Linked DNA regions of Homo sapiens. The protein of the gene in region 1 purifies or fractionates together with the protein of each later gene. This does not show direct contact. Each region holds a gene or a part of one and is shown in the gene's direction. Other genes may lie near its edges. The genes, in order: CTBS and ACAD10.

Region 1 (3,818 bases):
TCCTTTCCAAAAAGCTTTCAGTTTACTTTGGCCAGATCCATGAAAGGAGTTACTGTCTTTGGCTGCTACAGCCTTACAAAATCTATTTCTTAATTAATAAGAGTTAAAAGTTGAAATTACTCCTTGTTCCATGGGCTGCAGAATGGATGTTGTGTTAGCAGGCATGAAAATAACATTCATCTTGTGTTCTCCATCAGAGCTCTTGGGTGACCAAGTGCATTGTCAATGAGCAGTAATATTTTGAAAGAAATCTCTTTTTTTTCTTAGTACATCTCAGCAGTGGGCTTAAGATATTCAGTAAACAGATGTGCTGTGAGCCAGGCTTTGTTATTCCATTTATAGATCACAGGCAGAGTCAATTTAGCATAATTCTTAAGTGCCATAGGATTTTTGGAATGGTAAATGAACACTGGCTTCAACTTAAAGTTACCACCCTCATTAGTCCCTAACAAGAGAATCAGCCTGTACTTTGAGCTTTAAAGCCAGGTATTGACTTCTCCTGTCTAGCTAGCAAAGTCTTAAATGGCATCATCTTCTTCCAATATAAGATTTATTTGAAGAAAGGGGTCTCTGCCTTTTAAAATGTGTTTGATCATAATTTTACCCGACATGGGAGGTTTCAGAATGAAAACCCAAAGATACAGGAAAAACTGTCCATTTTTGTGCTTAGGTTCAACGAAGTATGGACAGCTATGTAGAACTGTGATCAGAATAAAGGGCATGAGCTAATGCAAACAGACTGAGTGGGAAAACTCAGCAAGGACTGTCTGTTCAGATTTTTCTTGGCCTCTCTGTGAAGGATTTCTTCTCATGGGTATGGGGTAGGACCTCTCTGGAATGAGGGTCTTAATTTCTTTATGGCCAGCTATTACACAGAAAGGTGGTGGTGGGAAAGGTTAGAGTAACATTTTTAGACTTTATGGCTGGTTTTGGGGAAAAGAGGCTCTAGTTTCTATGACCCATTTTAGGGAAGAGGGATTCTAGTTTCTCTTTCTTTCTTTCTTTCCTTTCTTTCTTTCTTTCTTTCTTTCTTTCTTTCTTTTTTTTTTTTTTTTTGAGACAGAGTCTTGCTCTGTCGCCCAGGCTGTAGTGCAGTGGCGCCCTCTGGGTTCACTGCACCCTCTGCCTCCTGGGTTCAAGCAATTCTACTCCTCAGCTTCCCCCATAGGTGGGATTACAGGTGCCCGCCACTATGCCGGGCTAATTTTTATATTTTTAGTAGAGATGGGGTTTCACTATGTAGGCCAGTCTGGTCTCAAACTCCTGACCTCAAGTGATCCGCCTACCTTGGCCTCCCAAAGGCCTGGGATTACACGCATGGGCCACTGCACCTGGCCAACACATTGTTTAAGCTCTTAGAATTCAGGAAACATTTTGGTGAGCCTTGAAGGCCATTTAATGTCACTTCAGAAAACAATCTAATTATAACTATTTTCTTCCTCTTTTTTATTCATTGCAAAATTCCCATTGTAAGGTTATTAGTCTAATTTCAATATCGTTATTAAGTCTTTTTTTTCTGAGATGGAGTATCGCTCCGTCACCCAGGCTGGAGTGCAGTGGCACAATCTCAGTTCACTGCAACCTCTGCCTCCTAGGTGTAAGTGAGTCTCGTGCCTTAGCCTCCCAAATATCTGGGGTTATAGGGATGCCCTACCATGCCCGGCTAATTTTTTGTATTTTTAGTAGAGATGTGGTTTCACCATGTTGGCCAGGCTGGTTTGAAACTCCTGACTTCAAGTGATCCTCCCATCTCGGCCTTCCAAAGTGTTGGCATTACAGGCGTGAGCTACCGCGCCTAGCCAAATATTGTTATTAAGTCTTATATGGGCAGTTCATGGTGCCCACAAACAATTACAATAGTAGCATCAAAGACCACTGATTGCAGATCATCATAACAGATATAATAATAATAATGAAAAAGTTTGGAATATTTTAAGAATTGCCAAAATGTGACACAGACACAAAATGAGCACTTGCTGTTGGAAAAATGGCACCAGTAGACTTGTTCAATAGAGTTGCCATAAACCTTCAATTTGCAAAAAATTTAATGTCTGCAAAGCACAATAAAGCAAAGTACAATAAAATGAGGTATGCCTGTAATTTAAAAATATGTAACATAGAATCTTAGGACAGTATATACTACCATATACTGTTTCTTTGTAATCCTGACCTTAGTAATCTGTGGCTTGTTTTTTCCTTAATGAATGTGAAAATGCAGGAACACATTCTTCTTTTTTTTTAGACGAGGTTTTGCTCTGTCACCCAGGATGGAGTGCAGTGGCACAATCATGGCTCACTGCAGCCTTGACCTCTTGGGCTCAAGCAATCCTCCTGCCTCAGCCTACCAAGTAGCTAGGACCATAGGCGTGTGCCATCATGCCAGGCTGATTTTTTTACTTTTTGTAGAGACGGGGTCTTTCTATATTGCCCAGGCTGGTCTTGAACTCCTGGCCTCAAGTGATTCTCCCACCTTGGCCTCCCAAAATGCTGGGATTACAGGTGTGAGCCACTGCACTTGGCCTCTTTTTTTTTTTTAATTAAAAAAAAGTGGCCGGGCGCGGTGGCTCACGCCTGTAATCCCAGCACTTTGGGAGGCTGAGGCGGGCGGATCACGAGGTCAGGAGATCGAGACCATCCCGGCTAAAACGGTGAAACCCCGTCTCTACTAAAAATACAAAAAAAATTAGCCGGGCGTAGTGGCGGGCGCCTGTAGTCCCAGCTACTTGGGAGGCTGAGGCAGGAGAATGGCGTGAACCCGGGAGGCGGAGCTTGCAGTGAGCCGAGATCCCGCCACTGCACTCCAGCCTGGGCGACAGAGCGAGACTCCGTCTCAAAAAAAAAAAAAAGTTTAATGGCAGGCAAAAATTATCTGTATTTATGGTGTAGAAGATGATGTTTTGATATATCTATACATTGTGAAATGGCTAAATCAAGTTATTTAACATATGTATTACCTCACATACCATTTTTTAAATGGTAAGAACACTTAAAATCCATTCTCTTAGGAATTTTCAACATAATACATTGTTATTAACTATAGTTACCACGGGATACAGTAGATTTCTTGTATTTATTGTTCCTAATTGAAAATTTGTGTCTTGAAATATCTATTCTTCCCACCCCCAGCCTCTGGTAACCACCTTTTTACTCTGTTTCTATGAAGAAACACATTCTTTAGGTCTCAGAATTCAGGAAACATTTTGGTGCGCATTGAAGGCCATTTAATGCCACTTTAGAAAAAAATCTAGTTATAACTGTTTCCTTCCTCTTTTTTTTTTTTTTGAGATGGAGTCTCACTATGTCGCCCACGCTGGTGTGCAGTGGCGCGATCTTGGCTCACTGCAAGCTCCGCCTCCCGGGTTCACGCCATTCTCCTGCCTTAGCCTCCCAAGTAGCTGGGACTACAGGTGCCCGCCACCAAGCCTGGCTAATTTTTTTGTATTTTTTTAATAGAGACGGGGTTTCACTGTGTTAGCCAGGATGGTCTCGATCTCCTGACCTCATGATCTGCCCATCTCGGCCTCCCAAAGGGCTGGGATTATAGGTGTGAGCCACCGCGCCCAGCCTCCTTCTTTTTTTTTTTTTCTTTTTTTTTTTTTTTTTTTTGAGATGGAGTTTTGTTCTTTTCGCCCAGGCTGGAGTGCAGTGGCACGATCTCGGCTGACTGCGCCCTCCGCCTCCCAGGTTCAAGCAATTCTCCTGCCTCAGCGTCCTGAGTAGCTGGGATTACAGGCATGCATCACCACACCCAGCTAATTTTTGTATTTGTAGTAGAGGCAGGGTTTCACCATGTTGGCCAGGCTGGTCTTGAACTCCTG
Region 2 (3,818 bases), on another chromosome or scaffold:
AACACCACTGAGGGGCCCCTGCTCTTGTTCAGGACTTGCCACATCCCACGTCTGAGGGTATGATGACATTTGGAGTCACATGCTCCTGCATTTCATTTCCATACATGAATATCAACCATGCAGGCGGATTTCAGACAGGCATTTATGGATTTTTTTCCCTCTTCTAAACTTAGAAAGTAATCAGGAGTCTGTGACACAGGAAGCCATACAGGGCAGACGCAGGAAGTGGACCCCAAACCTACTCTTCCAGGCCCCAGTGTGAACAGCTGACCTCTAGGCCACAGCCCTGGTTTGGTCCGCTCCCAGTTTGGTTCTCTGCTAATAGTGTTCACATTTTTACTTTCAGTGTTTTCATAGGATCACTACATTGTCACAAACCACTAGGAGCTTCAGCTTAAGGTGGCATTATTATGTTTTTATAAAAGGAATCACAGAATAGTCATTTGCCATTATAAATCAGTGATTCATTTTCTGTGTTTAACAGGCTGTTTCCTGCCGTCCTTTTCCCTTTAACCATGTCCCAGTAAGAAGGCTAAATAAAGGGCAGGGACATTGCCAGCAGATAACCCAGACTGAGGTGAGGAATAAACACATCCAAGGAAAATGACTATGGCTATTGCTCACAGTGATCGTTTGGGTCTTTCAGGTGGCCATGGTGAAGTCCGATTTGAGCACGTGCGTGTGCCCAAAGAGAACATGGTCCTGGGCCCTGGCCGAGGCTTTGAGATCGCCCAGGGCAGACTGGGCCCCGGCAGGATCCATCACTGCATGAGGCTGATCGGGTTCTCAGAGAGGGCCCTGGCACTCATGAAGGCCCGCGTGAGTGCTTTCCCCCGCACCCAGCACTGACTCAGAACCACCACCTTCTGCTTTGCTGTCGGACTTCAATTCCTACCTGTTTTCTGAGTGCAGTCCTAGCAGGTGAAGCAAGGTGATGTCCTTGCCAAGAAGTTGCATTCCTGTCTGCTTTGCATCTGCTACTTTGCTGCAGTTTGGATTCAGAGCAGAATGGACCCCACTCTGTCGAGGTGACCTGAAGGGAAACGCCAGGCTCTGTAGCAGCAGAGGCAAGGTTCCAAGGTGTAAAGGTCATGCTGCTAGCACATTATTAAAAATCAGTCTGGGTGCAATGGCTCACAGCTATAATCCCAGTACTTTGGGAGGTCTAGGTAGGAGGGTTGCTTGAAGCCAAGCATTTGAGACCAGCCTAGGCGAAAAAGAGAGACTCAGTCTCTACAAAAAAAAAAAAAATTTTTTTTTTTTTTTTGAGATGGAGTCTTGCTCTGTCACCAGGCTGGAGTTCAGTGGTGTGATCTCGGCTCACTGCAACCTCCACCTCCCGGGTTCAAGCAATTCTCCTGCCTTAGCCTCCCAAGTAGTTGGGACTACAGGCACGTGCCACCACGCCCAGCTAATTTTTGTATTTTTAGTAGAGACAGGGTTTCACCATGTTGGCCAGGAAGGTCTCGATCCCTTGACCTCGTGATCTGCCCGCCTCGGGCTCCCAAAATGCTGGGATTACAGGTGTGAGCCACCGTGCCCGGCAAAAAAAAGAAAAAGTTTTTTTTGTTTTTTTTTTTTTTGAGACGGAATCTCACTCTGTTGCCTAGGCTGGAGTGCAGTGGCGCGATCTTGGCTCACTGCAACCTCTGCCTACTGGGTTCACACCATTCTCTTGCCTCAGCCTCCCGAGTAGCTGGGACTACAGGCACCCGCCACCATGCCTGGCTAATTTTTTGTATTTTTAGTAGAGATGGGGTTTCACCATGTTAGCCAGGATGGTTTCGATCTCACCGTGTTAGCCAGGATGGTCTCGATCTCCTGACCTCATGATCCGCCCACCTCAGCCTCCCAATGTGCTGGGATTACCGGCGTGAGCCACCGTGCCTGGCCAAAAAGAAAAAGTTTTAAGTGCCAGGCATGGTAGCATGTGTCTCTAGTCCCAGCTACTCAGGAGGCTGAGGCAGAAGGATCGCTTGAGCCCAGGAGTTTAGGGCTGCAGTGAGCAGTGATCACACCACTGCACTCCAGCCTGGGTGACAGAGTGAGACCCTGTCTCTTTAAAAATAAATAAATAAATAAAAATCAGACACCAGGGAGATCCCATGTTGCTTGTTTTTGTCCCTAGGCTTCCATCATCTGGCCTGTACCACCCTCCTCCACAGCACATCCAGAAAACTTTATTCGGCCATAATCCTACCACCCCCAAAGTTTGGAAACCTAGGTTAAAAGACAGCTGCTTCCAGGACAGGAATTCAAATTGGTGATTATCAATTTCAGAAAGGTGACGCAAACCCTGAGACCAAAACCAGTGTCTCACAAGAACTGCTATTGAAAGAACAGAGGCAGTCTGAATTTTTTATTACCGAGCAAACCTGTGATTTACACCCTTTTGAGTTAAGACTGACCAGTTATTTTTTCTTTCTAAGTAAAACGCTCCTGTCTATGGACTCAGGTATGGTGCTTCAGCCCCACATGGAATTAAATTCAGCCTTCTGGCAGAATAATTGGACTGAATGAGTCAGACAGAAGTCTCCAGAAAGTGCATAGCATGAACATGGCACCTCCACTGAAGACTTGGTTGGAGTAATTAGGAATCTACAAAAGATTTGCTACAAGGAGGTTCACCACAGTGCTTATTGAAATAGCAAAATTCTGAACAACCTATAAGGCTAACAATGACTGTTGGCCAAATAAAACACAAGATGGCATACAGTGAGACTTTAAATGATGCTGTGGAAATCTATTCCTTAACATGGAGAAATTGCTCACTATATACACTTAAATTTAAAAAAAAAGACTGTGGCCAGGTGTGGTGACACTCCCAGCACTCTGAGAGGCCGAGGCAGGCAGATTGCTTGAGCCCAGGAATTTGAAACTAGCCTGGGCAATACGGCAAAACCTCATCTCTATAAAAAATAAGGCTGGGCGCGGTGGCTAACGCCTGTAATCTCAGCACTTTGGGAGGCTGAGGTGGGCGGATCACTTCAGGTTAGGAGTTTAAGACCAGCCTCGCCAACATGGTGATACCCCGTCTCTACTAAAAATACAGAAGTTAGCTGGGCATGGTGGCACATGCCTGTAATCCCAGCTACTTGGGAGGCTGAGGCAGGAGGATCACTTGAATCCAGGAGGCGGAGGTTGCACTGAGCTGAGATTGCACCACTGCACTCTAGCCGGAGTGACAAAGCAAGACTCCATCTCAAAAAAAAAAATTAAAATTAAAAAATTAAAAATAGTAGCCAGGTGGGGCTGGGTGTGGTGGCTCATACCTGTAATTCCAGCACTTTGGGAGGCCGAGGTGGGCAGATCACCTGAGGTCGGGAGTTCGAGTCCAGCCTGACCAACATAGAGAAACCCTGTCTCTACTAAAAATATAAAATTAGTTGGACGTGGTGGCGCATGCCTGTAATCCCAGCTACTTGGGAGGCTGAGGCAGGAGAATCGCCTGAACCCGGGAGGTGGAGGTTGCGGTGAGCCGAGATCGCACCATTGCACTCCAGCCTGGGCAACAAGAGCGATACTCTGTCTCAAAAAAAAAAAAAAAAAGTAGCCAGGTGTGGTGGCACACATTTATAGTCCTAGCTACTCAGGAGGCTGAGGTGGGAGGATCTCCTGAGCCTGGGAGGTCGAGGCTGCAGCGACCTGTGAGTGTGCCATTGCACTGCAGCCTGGGTAACAGAGCAACACCCTGTCTGGGAAAAAAAAAAACAAACAAAAACAGGCTGTTAGCTTTGATGCAAAATAATGTTTTGTTGTTGTTGTTGTTGTTGTTGTTATTGTTTTAAGCAGGCTGGCCGGGTGCTGTGGTTCATGCC

Evidence for each region.
Region 2: the proteins of CTBS (region 1) and ACAD10 fractionate together in Homo sapiens (co-fractionation; one large-scale study listed by BioGRID). This does not show direct contact.

Annotation. Positions count from the first base shown.
Region 1 is NC_000001.11:84,557,322-84,561,139, reverse strand, and holds part of CTBS (di-N-acetylchitobiase precursor), read left to right. Parts: intron 1-3,818. UniProt on the Homo sapiens protein: Involved in the degradation of asparagine-linked glycoproteins. Hydrolyze of N-acetyl-beta-D-glucosamine (1-4)N-acetylglucosamine chitobiose core from the reducing end of the bond, it requires prior cleavage by glycosylasparaginase.
Region 2 is NC_000012.12:111,748,527-111,752,344, forward strand, and holds part of ACAD10 (acyl-CoA dehydrogenase family member 10), read left to right. Parts: intron 1-646; coding exon 647-819; intron 820-3,818.